Linked DNA regions of Homo sapiens: all the other regions are linked to region 4. The links come from fine-mapping of genetic effects on gene expression. A gene starts in region 4. Each other region holds a variant in brackets. All regions are shown on one strand. Distances are between the middles of the regions.

What was found. PIP is the estimated chance that this variant, and not a neighbour inherited with it, causes the effect. A credible set is the group of variants that fine-mapping cannot tell apart.
Region 1: its variant is the best candidate, but not a certain one, in a credible set for the expression of PDE1A in skeletal muscle (FUSION, PIP 0.71).
Region 2: its variant is the best candidate, but not a certain one, in a credible set for the expression of PDE1A in substantia nigra (Braineac2, PIP 0.67).
Region 3: its variant is the best candidate, but not a certain one, in a credible set for the expression of PDE1A in thyroid (GTEx, PIP 0.74).

What each region holds. Positions count from the first base shown.
Region 1 is chr2:182,150,152-182,154,151 of GRCh38, forward strand. The region is part of intron 13 of PDE1A (phosphodiesterase 1A); the gene reads right to left. Among named protein-coding and RNA genes, the nearest start is that of PPP1R1C, 170 kb to the left of the region's middle. The variant CT/C (reference allele first, on the strand shown) is at 2,261.
Region 2 is chr2:182,596,354-182,600,353 of GRCh38, forward strand. It overlaps a transcript of PDE1A not described here. Among named protein-coding and RNA genes, the nearest start is that of DNAJC10, 120 kb to the right of the region's middle. The variant C/CA (reference allele first, on the strand shown) is at 2,209.
Region 3 is chr2:182,321,895-182,325,894 of GRCh38, forward strand. All of the region lies in intron 1 of PDE1A (phosphodiesterase 1A), which reads right to left. Among named protein-coding and RNA genes, the nearest start is that of PDE1A, 100 kb to the right of the region's middle. The variant G/A (reference allele first, on the strand shown) is at 2,093.
Region 4 is chr2:182,425,225-182,429,224 of GRCh38, forward strand. PDE1A (phosphodiesterase 1A) reads right to left here and starts at 1,812. Exons shown (of 15, transcript NM_001363871.4): 1 at 1,354-1,812. The coding sequence starts at 1,406.

The sequences.
Region 1 (4,000 bases), 280 kb before region 4:
AATACCATAAATGTTGATGCGTATTCTTTCCTACAAATGAGGAGAATGATAAATTTCAGTTAAAGACTAGTAAAAAGAAATCCCTCTCTAAGTATTCTGACCCTCTCTATATAACTCTGGATTAAAACTTGATCTAGTCTAACTTCATTTTTCAGGCAAGAAATAGGTCCAGAATAATCGGTTGACTTTCTACAATGCAGATCATAAATAGATAACCTGAAGTCAAGACGGTTGGCTTTTAATTCACTGGTACTTCAAGAAGACCAGTAACGTCACTTTTGAATTTCATCTTACTGAAAGGATTTGCAATGTCATATATATAGAAAGCTGCTCATTAGGAATGAATGCAAGTGGTCTGTTCAAAGAAATTGCATATAAACTTGTTTGTCAGCCAGGAAAAACAGTGAAAATAAAGGAACATCAATAATTCTGTTCAGTTCAAAGAGTTTTAGGTGTTCATCTCAACCAGTTTCAAAAGTTCAAATCTAACAAAATAATTTGTAAAATGATAGAAATTTTATGGGTTTGGTTTGTAAATAGAGTCTCAATTCTTCAAGGAGCAGGGAGGGGATAGTTGTTATAGGAGAGACAGACTTACCAAAACCAACAGAAATCCTCTAAATTTAGCTAATCTAGGCTTTTAGATTGCAATTTAAGCTCACTTTTACCATATTAGAATCATAATGTGTTAGACTCATGGTGCTGTGAATAAGACTTGCAGGGAATTACACCAAACACACTATCAAGTGGATATTAGAGACTTTTGTCCTCCAGTCAGGGTCTCACTAACTATCTGAGAAATAACCTGTTAGGATAAATTATTATACAATTGAAAATATACCAATAATAATCAATACTTTGTGAACACCAACTAGGTGGCAGACACTATTCTAAGTGCTTCACTCACCTCACTTCCCTGAATCCTCACAGCAAACTTATTATTATTATTTTTTGAGACAAAGTTTTGCTCTTGTTGTCCAGGCTGGAGTGCAATGGTGCAATCTCAGCCCATTGCAACCTCCGCTTCCTGGGTTCAAGCGATTCTCCTGCTTCAGCCTCTCAAGTAGCTGGGACTATAGGCATCTGCCACCACACCCAGCTAATTTTTTTGTTTTTTGTTTTTTTGCATTTTTCATAGACACAGGTTTCACCATTTTGGCCAAGCTGGTCTTGAACTCCTGACCTTCAGGTGATCCACCTGCCTTGGCCTCCCAAAGTGCTGGGATTACAGGTGTGAGCCACCACGCCCTGCCCCCCTCACAGCAATCTTATAAAGTAAGGTTGAACAATTGTGGAAGCTGAGACATAGCTTGAAAACTATCTGCCCAAAGTCTTAAAGCCAGCAAGGGGCTGGATCCTCTGACAAAGGACAACCAGAATCTTGGCCTCTAGTTTGACTGTTTCCCAAGCTACAATCATGAGTAACCTACCCTCACCAATTCTGCTGTATTCATATGCCACCTGTCCTCTCGCTTACCTAATATTTTTCTTTAAATAGACTTTAAATATACTCCTTTAAAAATTAGTTTTGTTCTCAATAGTAATTTTCCTACCACAGAAATAAATTTGTTGTTCTTTTTGTATTTTTCTAATACCTCAAATCCATAATTAAAAGATCATTTCTCATGTAGATATAAAAAACAAAATGATTTAATAGCTTATTTTGCACTCGTTATTTTTGACTTATCTAGCCCAACAATCCCTGCATGTAAGTGGGAAAATCATCATTATGATTCTCATTTTAGAGATGAGAAAGACATGATTAGAGGGGTAGCTGACTATTCCAACGCAAAATAGCCTAGGTGAATTTGGGAGACAGAATCACAAGCTATTCCTCAGAGCAATGCCCCAGTTAATTTTTTAAATTTAACAGCAATAATAAATGGTGTTTGAAAAATACCACAAAATTGGTTTGTGCAGTCTTTTCAACAGAAATATTAGCTCTGAGTAACACTGCATTCTTATTTTTTCATAAGAAGAATATTACCTTTGCTATGTATAATAGTATTTCCTTAGGCATATCTCTAGGTTGCTTCAGCTTTACTTTTAGACCATTTATATAGTTTATGTTGCAGATAACTAGAATAAATTGGTGATCAAAGATTAAAGTTACAGTCATTGGAAAAATGTAATGTAGGATAAATCAGATATTCTGATTTTAATTGGTGTTTTGGCATCCATATAATGTAGTTTGCCTTACATGCTGGGATAAAGAAATCTATTTTAATACCAGGGGAAATACTTTCCCTATTTTTTTCCT[CT/C]TTTTTTTTTTTTTTTTTTTTTTTTGAGATGGAGTCTCGCTCTTGTTGCCCAGGCTGGAGTGCAATGGCATCATCTTGGCTCACTGCAACCTCTGCCTCCCAGGTTCAAGTGATTCTCCTGCCTCACCCTCCCAAGTAGCTGGGATTACAGGTACCTGCCACCAGGCCCAGCTAATTTTTGTATTTTTAGTAGAGACGGGGTTTCGCCATGTTGGCCAGGCTGGTCTTGAACTCCTGACCTCAGGTGATCCACCCGCCTCAGCCTCCCAAAGTGCTGGGATTACAGGTGTGAGCCACTGTGCCCAGCCTATTTTTTTCCTCTTAATTTTAATGCATTTGGAGAAGAAGCAGTTGTATGTGTTCGTTTACTTTGCAGTATGCGTGAAGGCAACAGTAAGAGAAGACAGGACTGCACACTAGGCAGAAGAAAAAGAAGGCTGTGAAAACAAAATTCCACTTAATTCCAAAATGTGCTAGCTCCAACCCTGTAAAATTAGAGCAAGTAATACCTTAAAGTGTTACATAAGACACAAATCAAGAAATAGGTAAATTATGTATTGGTTCATTAAAGAAAAACAGAAACATCTGATTTTGAGGAAAATACAACAATTTACTTTAGCAAGCTTTAGACTTACACCCAATGCATATGTGCTAGGCATCTAGATATGTAGAGAGTTTTACAGGTGATCTACGGAAAATGAAAAATTTATATGTATATTCATCTGCAAATCAGTGAAATTATACTCAACTTGGGGAAGCTAATACCTTGTCAGATAGCCAGAAATCTTAGTGTTTAAGTTACACTGAAATAGTTTAACAATGTGGGAGGTAGTTCAGCTGGCTCCTTGAAAGAGTTTTCTAAAATTGGGTCTGAAGGTTGTATATGTTTTGTTGGCACACAGGTAGGAGTATGCTGTTAGTGAAGGGATGAGGAGGTACGGTGGAGCCTGAGCAAAGGCAGAGGGTTGAAAAGAAAAATGATATGCCAGGAAAGAAATGAAGCCCAGCTGAGAAAACTACTGTGAGCTCCTACCCACTGGTTGAAGCAATTATTTCTCCATCAGAGTGTCATTCTTTTAGAGGAAGGCTCTGACACCTATTAAAATGTTATTATTCCTAGAAGGGAACTTTGTGACTGAATCGCAGATCTTCTTAAAAGAAAGCAGGCTCTGAGAGCAGGGAGATGATAAGAATGCACAGGCATTGATTGAAGGTAGAGAAGTTGGGGGTGGCAATGGAGAGAGAAGCTCTGGAGTGGTGAAGTTAAGACCATTCAAATCACACTTTATCTCTTGTAAAGAGTAGCAGGAATCAGCCATGGAAATGATCAGATTTGGCTCGTAGAGGCAAGTTGATGTGAAAGGCAACATGGGGCTGCTCTGATTTCTCAATTAGGATGAAAAATGGGGTGAAAATTGAGTCTGATGTTGGAGATACTGAAGGGTAGGAGGTTTGGAGGCAGGTAAGGGATGAGAAATTACTTAATGGGTATAATGTACACTATTCGGGTGATGGCTGCACTTGAGTGTGAGAGAAATGCCAAAAATTCACATATTCTTTATCTTTATAAATAGGACAAATTAACTGTAGAATATTGATTTTAACTATCTACCTAAGTGAGTTTCAAAAGCTAAAACTTGGAAAAAATAATCTGTAAAATGATGCAAACATTTTGGCTTTCCTTTAAATAATCTGAATAAACTATTCTGGTTGATTGAGTTTTCTTTGTAAAGCTGGAT
Region 2 (4,000 bases), 170 kb after region 4:
CCCACAGACTCTTCTGAGGCACACATGAGACATACCTTCCCCCAGGGAGGCTGAAGACTTAGGTGAGAATTTGCAGAGTCTTAAAAGTGCCAGCCACATCGCAAGGGGAGAAGGAAAGCCAGTGAAATTTGAGCTACTGATCCTGTTACCAAAGTGGCGATACTCTTCAATAATTGGTTTATACTTTAAATACTTTTATATCTTTAACATAATATTCACTATGTGCAGGTAACTCCATTGAAAAACAAATAAGGCTATCAAAGTTGAGGGCCATCAGTAACTATGAGGCTACTGTATAATATGAACTGTCTGCATGAATAATAAACTGGATGGATGGATGGATGGATGGATGGATGGATGGATGGGAAAAATGCAAGAATTTGGGCAAGGACAAAGAGAGTAAGGCAAGAATCAACAGCTACAATGAAAGCTGTAGAGTAACCAGAAAGCTGATTTTTAAAAAATAGAAGCAATGAGGTGTGAAGAATAGAACTTTCATATAAAGAATCTAAACACACTGCCAGGCGCAATGGCTCATACCTGTAATCCTAGCACTTTGGGAGGCTGAGGCAGGTGAATCTGTAGAGCCCAGGAATTTGAGTCCAGCCTGGGCAACATGGCAAACCCCGTCTCTATTAAAAATACAAAAATTAGGTGGGCACAGTGTTGAATGCCTGCAGTCCCAGCTGCTCAAGAGGCTGAGGTGGGAAGATCACCTGAGCCTGGAGGTTGAGGCTGAGGTGAGCCATGATCATGCCACTGCATTCCAGCCTGGGCAACAGAGTGAGACCCCATCTCAAAAATTAAAAAAAAAAAATTTTTTTTTTAAATCTAAACACATTATCTAAAAATGATTTGGAGTTTCAGACTTAAGAGCAATTATGAGAAATGAATTTGACATCAAAATCTTAGAATTGCTGAGGAATTTTAATTCATGGAGACAATGGAATGTACCAGGATAGGTATATGACTTATTCTGGAAGATACAGACTATGTGGTTGCTATGCCTCACTAAGGGGAAATATATCTGAATGGTGCATGTGAAGGAGCCATCAATAGGTTCAAAGGCAAGGCTGGAGGAAACAGAGAAGCCAGCGCTTGCAGGCTATTGCAGAGGAAGAGAGGAACTGGTGGGCCAGGACAGGGCATGAGAGCTGAGGGGTCCTGGGAGGGTCCTGAGAGGTGTGGGGGAAAGGGAGTAAAGAAAGTAAAGAATACAGGGGTAGAGAGACCGTTTCCACAATACCCACCTCGTAATTTTGCCCAAAGCCCACTTCTAAATTAAGAAGTGTACTTTTTCACATGTAAATAGAAATCTCTAGATGCTAACTTTATTTTGAGTAATATAAGACATACTTTGAATTATAAACTTTTCAGGCATTGTCAAGTCCCCAGGGAAAATGACGCAACCTTCAATATCTTCCCTACAACAACTGCGGATGGTGAAGCTCAGAAACAATCCTTCCACAAATAGAGATAACATAGTTTCTTTTGCATTTATCTTTGGTCATTCAGCAGTTTGGAGACTTCTCAAAAGGCACTGAGGCGTTAAGAAAATCCTCTTTTCACCAAATTGCTGTTCTCCCATGAAACTTTTCTGTTCTTTTAGAACACTTTAAAATTTCCTTGTTTCAGCATGTTAAAGAAATGTGAAATTTAAGCGACTAAGTCAGCCTACTGGGTCACCAATGCAAAATTACTGCAATCTGTTTCTCAGTTTATCAGGCTCCCTAAAGACCATTAAGTCCTATGCACAGCCATAACAGCTTCATCTTCAAATGCTCAGAAACATAGCCCAGAAATTAAAATGGGAGTTTAATTTATTCCTTCTTCTGTTCAACCCTTAATCTTTTTTCCAGTGCTTCTGCAAGCTGATTTACTTTAAATTGCAATTATCCTAAGAAGAAAATTGTAAAGGAAAAAGAACAAGGTTCTCAACCGGGCACAGTGGATCACGCCTGTAATTCCAGCATATTGGGAGGCCGAGGCGGAGGGATCACCTAAGGCCAGGAGTTCAAGACCAGCCTGGCCAACATGGGGAAACCCTGTCTCTACTAAAAATCCAAAAATTAGCTAGGCATGGTGGCGGGCACCTGTAATCCCAGATACTTGGGAGGCTGAGGCATGAGAATCACTTGAATCTGGGAGGCGGAGGTTGCAGTGAGCTGCAACGCACTCCAGCCTGCGTGATGGAGCGCAACTCTGTCT[C/CA]AAAAAAAAAAAAAACAAAAACAAGGATCTTTGCCATTAATTCTGCTTTCACGCTCTCCCTTTCTCATTTCCCATGTTCTATACTCCCTATCAAGCTCTGCCTTTCGAGTGTGGGGGCAGGGCAGAGTAGGGGAATCCTCACCCTACCAAAGCCTCTGATGACTCCTTCTTCCACTAAGCTCCTGCACCACTGATTATTTTAACCATTCACTTTATACTGAGCATGTGTATTACAGTTACTATTACTGCGTAACAAATAACCACAAAACTTTGTGGCTTAAAACCACTTTACTATGCTCCTGGATTCTGTAGGTCAAGAATTAAGATAGCACACAGCTTATCTGTGCTCCACAGTGCCTGGACTTCTGCAGGGAATTACTCATGGGATGGAGGCTGGAGTTCTCCAGACAGCACAACCGCTGCCATCACGCTGGCTGCAGCAGAGAAACACGGCTGGGGCTTCATGCTCCATGGAGCCAGTGAGAGCTCTGCCCCTTCTGAGTTGGGGCAGGAGCTCCGCAGGTGTCGCTGCAACTACCCAAACCATGGCTGCAGACTCATGCATCCTGCACTCTTGGGAGCCCAGGAAGGCCCCCCCTACCCTCACAGGCTCAGAAGTGACTGCTCCCACTGCCTGGCTTTTCCCTGCTATGGGTGCCTGCTCCCATGACTGGTGGTGGATCCTGGCTCTGCCTCAGTGGGACTTGAGCTGGGGCTGTCAACTAAAGCAGCTGCTTGAGCTCTCCATGTGGCCTGGGCTCCCTTATACCATGGTGGCCTTAGGGTAGTCTTTTTCTTTCCTGGACGCTCATCTGCAAAAGCAAGACAGAAGCTACAATGCCTTTTATGACCCAGCCTCCATAGCTATGCAGGCATTTCCTCTCCATCTACTGGTTACAAGTGAATCATTAAATCCGATCAGATTTAAAAGAAAGGACATACATCCCACCTCTCAATGGAGTGCCAGAGAACTTGTGGATATGTTTTAAATCCACCACAATGTGCTTCTCTGTGTTATTATTTCTTATGTATGTTCTGGCTTTTAAGCTTTATATTCTTTAAACTGATAAAATTTTCAGAAATAACAAAAATACAGAATGCCCCCACTAGATTTGAATTTCAGATGAATAGGACATCCTTTTACTATTAAAAAAAATTATTTGTTGCCTATCTGAAACTTAATTTTAACTGGATGGCCCATCTTTTATCAGACAAGCCAACCCAAGCACATATCCCTGTGCTATAGGCATCAGAGAGGTTTAATTATGCCAGTTATTGACCCAAATGTAATATCTGATTAGATTGCTAAATAATTACATGTACCAGATCTCTAGACTCTACTCCCTCCATTGCAATCATAAAAGTAAAATCCCATATTCCACCTCCAGATCTTCAGGTTGCTACTTCAACATGACAGGAAAGTCCCTTGAAGCCTGGTCTAGGAGCACAATCCTACTCTACTCCCAGGAGAAAAATAAATCCTTAAGTAAAAATTTTCAGGTTTTAGAGTTTCCATCATTGTTAATTAGATTTGAACACTCTACAGCAAAGTTCTCTTAGGTTTTGAAAATAAAATTGGGTAGTTTTATAAGAGCTGATTATTAAAAAAATAAGTAATGCTATTTCAAAATGCTCCTGCTTTTTTTGTCATCATCAACGCATTTCTCTTTCTGTACCATCTGTTGCAGAATATTCATTTTCTGAAAGGTTTTTTTCAGGTTGCTTGCTACACAATTTTCAACAACAGAGGAGCCATAGAGAGTACTCAACATTATTGTAAGTTGTTTAGAAA
Region 3 (4,000 bases), 100 kb before region 4:
ACCACCAGGCTAGATATTATTTTAATTTCTCTTCCAGCTTCACCATTCTAGGATTCTAGGAAATGATGTTTTACTCTGGATTTAAAATTTCAAGGTAATTACCTTTAGAAGGACAGTGTGGTGTTCTGTCCCTAATCGTTGGAAATAAGAGCTCCAAAGTCACGTTGCACTTTGAATTCCTTCTCTCCTACTTACAAGTTGTGTGATCTTGGGCAAATTATATTTTCTTTCTAAACCTCTGTCTTCTCTTTTATAAAAAGAGATAAGAGAAGAATCACCAGGATTGAATTCAATATTGTATGAAAATTTCTTAATATGGTGTTGGGCACATAGTAAGCCACAGAATCAACTCGAGACTTCATAGATTCCAGACTATTAGAAGCTGATATGGTTTGGCTTTGTCCCTACCCAAATCTCATCTCGAATTGTAGCTCCCATAATCCCCACGTGTTGTGGGAGGGACCCAGTGGGAGGTAATTGAATCATGGAAGTGGGTTTTTCCTGTACTCTTCTCATGATAATGAATATGTCTCAAGAGATCTGATGGTTTTATAAAGGGCAGTTCCCCTGCACATGCCCTCTTGCCTGCCGCCATGTAAGATGTGCCTTTGCTCCTCTTTTACCTCTGCCAAGCCATGTGGAACTGTGAGTCCATTAAACCTCTTTTTCTTTATAAATTACCCAGTCTCAGAAGTTTCTTCATAGCAGTATGAAAATAAACTAACACAGAAGCTGAATTCACTTCTCATGAGGCAGACTCTGTTAGACAATTAAAAAGTTATGTGATTCACCAATAGTTTTTATTTTTATCTTGATGGGCTTTTTACTTAAGACACTCACCATTTTTATAAAGTTTAGTAAAAGAATTTGTAGAACACTCCAGTGATACAGATAGGTGAAACTATATTCTTTTTATTTTAGAAAATAAATGATAAAGTAGATACGTTAAATGATTTCGCAAAAATAAATAAATAACTAGGCTGTAGACCCAGAAATAAAATCAGAGAGTATATTTCTTGAAAATATCTTAATTACATGTTAGTTGATTGTTAAACTATGCTTAGTTCCTACAAAATGAGTTCTTATCTGAATGTTTTAGAATACTCAATATTCTGAGTGTTATACATAATATAACTATTCTACATCTTGTAAGACTCATAAAAAGTTGTCTGCTGACTTATTACAAAATAAAACAAATGTTATTTTAACCTTATGAGCTTGAACAAATAAATCTAAAATAAATGGCTTTATAGAAGCCTTTGAACTTATAAACCAATTAAAGCAATGGAAAACAACTACATATATATAAAGGACAGAAAAACATACCCGGTTTATCTCTTCTTTGTGACTAATAATTGTGGCTTATTGTCAATGCTGTTCGATATATTTTGTAAATTTATGGAAATGAAAACAGACAAACAAAAAACTCCCATTTCTTCTCTCCAAATAAGAGATTAGCTATTTCTATCAATGGGACTCAGTCACAAGAGTTCTAAAGAGAAGTTCTTCATTAGAGAAGTAATAACTATAATAAGGAATGTTTTCTCTAAGAGGGAAGAGAGAGACTATTAGGAAGTTGAACATAGGCTGGAGACAGACAAGAAAAAAATGAATTTTTAAGAAACATCTCTACCCCTGCCCTAATGTTTACCAGTTAAGAGCCAAAAGTTTCTTTCAACTTCTTGGAGGCAGGGGAAATTCTTTGGAAGATTTAAGTGCCTGTCGGAGGAGCGCTGAAAAAATCCATCTTCAGCATTAGCACTGCTTGGAGGGTCCTTGTCTGGAGAGGTAGGTCTGGCTATCGTCAATGAATAGGGCAGGAAGCCCCCAGGAACACAAGGAGGATAGTAACGCAAGTATTACATCTCACGAACTCTGAGGCACCCTGTTTCTGCCAGAGGTGTGAGACTGTACCAGCTTCCAAGGGATTTCCACCAGAAGCCCCACACCCTGGTAGAGCAGACCAGCGTGTCAGTGTGTTGCCACACCATCCAAGGCACAACTGTAGGGCCTGACATTGCAGTAGGGCTGTGCAGCCTTTTCAGGCACAGCATAGATTTTCTCAGTGGGCCAGGGAATCAATCAGAGACTC[G/A]CTACACCAGTAGGGAAGACATTTCTGCTTTAAGAACCATAGGAGAGTGAAAGACAGACCCATAAATATAGGTGGTGCTATTAATTTTTACTGTTTATTTCCTAGCAAGATGCCTGGAAAAATTATTCATTACAAGCTTATATGCTTCATTTCATTTGAATCTCAATATATTACTATAAGGGAGATAGGAAAAGAAGTATTATTTCAGTTTCGTTGAGGAGGGGATAATACTAACGGTTCTATATCTCAGTGATTAGAGAACAGGGAGGAGAATCTATTCAACCATAATTCCCTCACAAGAATCTTGACTTCAACATCTAATCCACTAAAATTTCCATTTTGGGAACTTGCATACAAGATAATCGATGTATACAAATTTAGGCATATTTTAAAATTCTAATTTTGTTAAATATGAAAATGATGTGCATAAAATCATCTTAATGTCTAAGTTTAGGGGATTCCAAAACATAGTTACTTAGTTGTCATAATTACCTGTATATGAGAAAATTAAAAACAGATGAAAATCAGAGACCTTCTATGTAATCTTAAATATTTAGACTTTCCACCTAATGCCAAGCATACTCTATGTTAGAGGTCAAATCTGTTATGTTACTTTTTCTTGAGGTTTCATATTTTGCCCCAAACCTACAAGAAAATAAATCACTGTTCTGTGGGTACATTGGGTAGCACACGCTCATCCCACGTCTGTACTCCTTTGTGATGTCTCTTGGAACTTGTTCTTTTTTTGTTCCCCCAGCATAGACGGTTTGTCCCTTCCATCCTCCATTCACTGTACAGTTGACTGCCCTCAATGCAAAACCAAGTCAGCTGAAGTTAGTCACTCACAAAAAAATCAGTGCTTCAGTCTTGAGCAATAAGTTCAGGAAACATTTAAGTGTTTATTACGTGCCAGTTGCTTTCACAAAGGTTATCACAACAAATTCTGAGGTAGACACTATTACTCCTGCAGCTCAGAAAGGTTCAATGATTTGCTCAGGGTCATGGAACTAGTTATTTCTGGGATTCAGTCCAAGATTTTGACTTTGAATTCACTGCCCTTTTTCCTATCCTATTAACACACATCAGGGCTAAAATCCCAGGGTACAAACATACATTTGACTAGTCAACAGGAGCAAAAATGGTAATAAATTCAGGCCATGCTGAGCAATTAAAAATAGGAAGATATAAGTCTCAAGTATGAGAGTAATGGAAAATATAGACTTGTTGGTTAGTAATTAATTTAAAGTTACATAGATACTTTGTCAACCTATAACACTAAATGTGACTAAAAAGCATATGTGGCTTTACCATACAACATATACAAAAAGTAAAAATGAATCAAAGATCTAACATAAAAGCTAAAACTATAAAAAATCATAGAAGGAAACATAAGGGAAAAGCTCTATGATACCAGATTTGGCAACAATTATTGGATATGACACCAAAAACATGGGTAATGAAACAAAACAATGGAAAAAAATTGAGTTCATTATAATTAAAAACTTGTACATCAAAGGAGACTATCAACAGAATAAAAAAGCAACTCAAAGAATTGGAGAAAATATTTGTAAATCACATGTTTAATAAGAGATTAAGATCCAGAATACATAAAGAACTCCTGCAACTTAACAACACCAAAATAAAAACCCAGCTGGGCGTGCTGCCTCACGTCTGTAATCCCAGTAGTTTGGGAGGCCTAGGCAGGTGGATTGCCTGAGCTCAGGTGTTCGTAACCAGCTTGGGCAACATGGTGAAACCCCGTCTCTACTAAAATACAAAAAAATTAGCCTGGCATGGTGGTGTGCATCTGTATTCTCAGCTACTCAGGAGGCTGAAGCAGGAGAATTGCTTGAACCCAGGAGGCAGAGATTGCAGTGAGTTGAGATCACGCCACTGCACTCCAACCTG
Region 4 (4,000 bases):
CCCTCTGTGAGTTGTGCCTCACTGGTGTTGAGTTTAGAATCATCTGGGCAACTATCATACCTTTTTGAAGTCGCACGTGCACTTGGGAGAATATAGATACTACATACAATTGGAAGAACTTTTTAGGAAATATGGTAGGTGAATATATTTTGGGGGTCATTTTAGATTTTTGGTTATTTACCAACATCATTGCATAAGACACAAAAACATATTTAAGTAGAGGGGGATAGTAATATTAAATCCATATATATGAATTTAAATATAATTTATGTTCAAAGGAAGACTTTAAAACAGATTCAAGCTAACATCTTGTTTTAAGCATTACAAAGGTATAATGTTGCTATTAATAATTCAGTAATGATGTTTAATCAGTAAAAATGGCCACATTTTATATAATTATATTCCTCGAGGTCTACTCATTCATTATGTAGAAACCACAGAGAAATTTTGCTCATACGTTTTATCATCCTGTATTTAATTCCAGACAAAAACCAGTGGTTGCAACTTGACCTTAACATTGCTAACATGTAGTATCTCTGCTTTATCTAGAATATTATTTTGTGGAAAGACAAAACTGATATATAACTGACTTTCTTAAAAATCTTCTGTTTTGAGGGGCAAAAATAGGGTTCAATTTCTAGATACTTTTAAATTATTTTTTATTTTAAATTCTAAAGTACATAATAGGTAACTAAAGAATCCAGAATTAAAGAGTCAATGAAGAAACAGCTGCTTTCTTAAAGAAAGGGTGTACCTCCCTCCAAAATTAAACTTTAGCTCAATCCATTATACTGTATCTACATTTTGCCTGGTCACAGATTCCACCACAGTGTAAAATTTTTCCTATCACCCTGTTGTTTCTTTAACTGCTGGTCTGATATTCCTGAGCGAGCTGTAAAATGTGCACTCTAGTAAAGTAGCTATCAAGTTCAAATTTATCTCCCGACACTTCACTCCAGAAAGGTGTAGTATTCACAGCACTGAAACACTGCCCTTGCCTGTAATCAGTTGAAAGAACTAAGCACAACGTTTCCTATTTAGAGGGCTGTGCAACAGCCTACAGAAACAGCTAGAGATTGCATAACGTTTCCAAAGTTTTTCCAGTACTATGTCACTTATGTGTTTGAATAGTTAAGATTTTGTAAAATGTATTTTCAGGAGTTGATAAGAGTTTGTGCACAAAGTTTCAGAAAACAGAAAACAAAAAGGCTCCCTCAGTATGCCTGAAGTTAAACTTTAAGCACTCTTGATTGCTCTGCTGTAGCTTAGTGGCAGAATCCCCAAATTAAGGATGAAGGGAGAAACTATTGTTCCTGACAGCCCTAGAGCCACCTGCGATGTAGCATTACTTACCTAAAGATGGGTCTTTGGAGATGTTTCTTCCTGATTGTGACATGGTCATCCATTTAAAGGTGAAGGTTTAACTTCTTCCTGGAAACCACTCCAGAAACTCCAGAGAGGAAATGTGGAAGCTTATCCTGATCTATTGTGCTGCAAGGAGCCCAGAAAGAAAAAGTAGTTTCCTCTTTCTCTTTTTGGGTGCTGGGAGAAAACTTCCCTGTTCTCTGCCAGCTGAGCAGTGTGTCCATAGAGGCCACATAAGACAGGCACGTTGGGGCACTCCCCCACAGAGCAGGGTGTGCAAAAACCACCAAGAGTCACGTTGATCCAGGCAAGAGAAGTGCACGGGACCCTCCGAAACAGAACAAAACAAACAGAAAACTTCCTACCCCAGTGTCATCCAGGTAGGAACTCCCTAAGTTATTGCAGCCATGAGAGCTCTCCTTCCACATGCTGGTCAAGCTCCGAAAGGCTAAGTCCCTCCCTGTCTTTAAAACAGACTGTTCTGAGGCTCAACTTTTTTTCTTCAAAATAAAAGTTGTACAGCTGGTTCAGCAGCCCCATGTGAGTACCCTCTGAAAGTTTGTTCTCTTAAAATAAGAACTGTATACAAATTAATGAAGAAAGATAGGCTCGGGTTGCATGGCTGGCTCTGCTTCAGATTATAATTATTTTACAATCTTGCTTGTATTCATGCTGGCTGAAGTGTGGAGACGACTCATCATTTTTAGCACTTATAATCTAATAACCTCCTCTTGGCTGAAGTTGAAGATGCCATATCAACTGATAGAAGCCCATGCGAAGCTGACCAGAGCTACAAAAGTTAGAAAAACAAAAATTGCTAATTTCTACTGGTGACATTATACCCAGATGTCTGTACCCAAATGTGGTTTCCAACTAAGAGGAAACATCTCTTGCAAAAAAGAGATGGAAACACACACACACATCCACATGCTTTTTTTTAACAAAAAGCCCCTCCAAAGTGCCTGGGAGCCTATGGTTTATATATTATGTGATGAAATTTGGATTTATAAAAGTAAAAGGAAAGAAAAGAAGGTATAAAAGAATTTGTGAACAGCTGAAAATAAATGATATTAAAAATTGTTTTCTTTTAGAAGACAGATTTACACTGCGGGAACTCTTATTCTAGCTCCAGATAAAGGGAATGCTCGTATTTTAATGTAACTTATTTTGGAGACCTTCCTGTATCTGAATCACTAACAAAGTTCCTATTCAGTCAATAATGTCATAAGATTCCAGGTCAGAGATTTGTAATAAACTAAATCATTTCAAAGCATGATTAGAATGTTTTTAATATATACATGTAATAAAAAGGGAAAAATGAGTAACGTGCATGCCTTTAGTTGAATGATCCATAAAAATAAAGATCAAATGTCACAAAGGAGGATACTATCTGTAGTTATTGGCACTCTCCAAATACTTCCAGGGAGAAAGATCACCTTTTTATTTTCCTCCCTGAGGAGAGATAAGGAAGGAGAAGAGAGTTATAAGGGAATCATGGATTTTATCGAGCCGTTCTAATCCAAACTAGGAAATGTAATCATTATGAGAGCATTGAACTAAAAATAAAATAAATGGGTTCTAGTCCTAGTTCTATTGCAAATATGCCGGGCCACTGTGGGCAAATTTCTTGACCTGTCTGAGACCATTTTCTTGTTTGTAAAATGAAATTATAATATTAATTGAATTCTATATTTCTTTCCAGCTTTAATGGTACTATCATGTTATTTCTAAATCTGATTCGCCTGCTTCTTGCAAAGAAACTGCCATAGAAGTTATGATGCCTGATACTTCAAAAACTACACACTTATTATGTACTGTTATAAATAAATAAGGAAGCTATAAATAAAAAGATGATTTTATATTATGTATAACATATTTATATAGATATTACATAGTTATGTAGTGACATCTATGTCACTGTTCTCTTTATGATCAATAAGTACCAATGATAAATTCACATGTGTGCTATACAGCAGTTAAATATACTGACCATGTATAAACAAACTTAGATACAGATCTTTGAAGCAGATGCTTTATTATTACCATATGCTTTGGCTTTCTTTGTATTTAGGAAAGCACATAAGAAATAACACATTGTACAGGTCTTCTGGGAGGGATTTTGCGTTTGTGGGTAGCATTCAATTTCTGTAGTCATGGTTTACCTATATTACCATTAATATAGCATAAATCTTCCTCCTGAGGGAAAATTCAAGAAAATAATAAGCCCATCAACTTTTAAAAATTAACTTTCATTTTGTCTTCTTTTGAATTGGAAATGTGAGACAATTTCTACATGAACACAATGGAGGGAACTCAACATAAATACTAATAAACATCTAGCCAAGGTACAGTTCAAACGGCAAGCAAGTATGAAATATAGCTTGAAGTCCAAAGGCTTGATTACCAGCTGAAGAATCTGAAAGTTGTTAATCATAGGAAATCCATAACATACTTCATTACCTTAGGTTTATATTCTTTTTTCTTTCTGTGATTAAGTTAGAAAGTTTAGATTCACTTTATGGAAAGCACTATATTTAAAACCAATCTGAGACCCTATAAAGCATTCAGATGATACCAGTAAATTAAATATTCACTGGGCACAAAGAAAAATATATATTTCTTAAATGTTTTTATT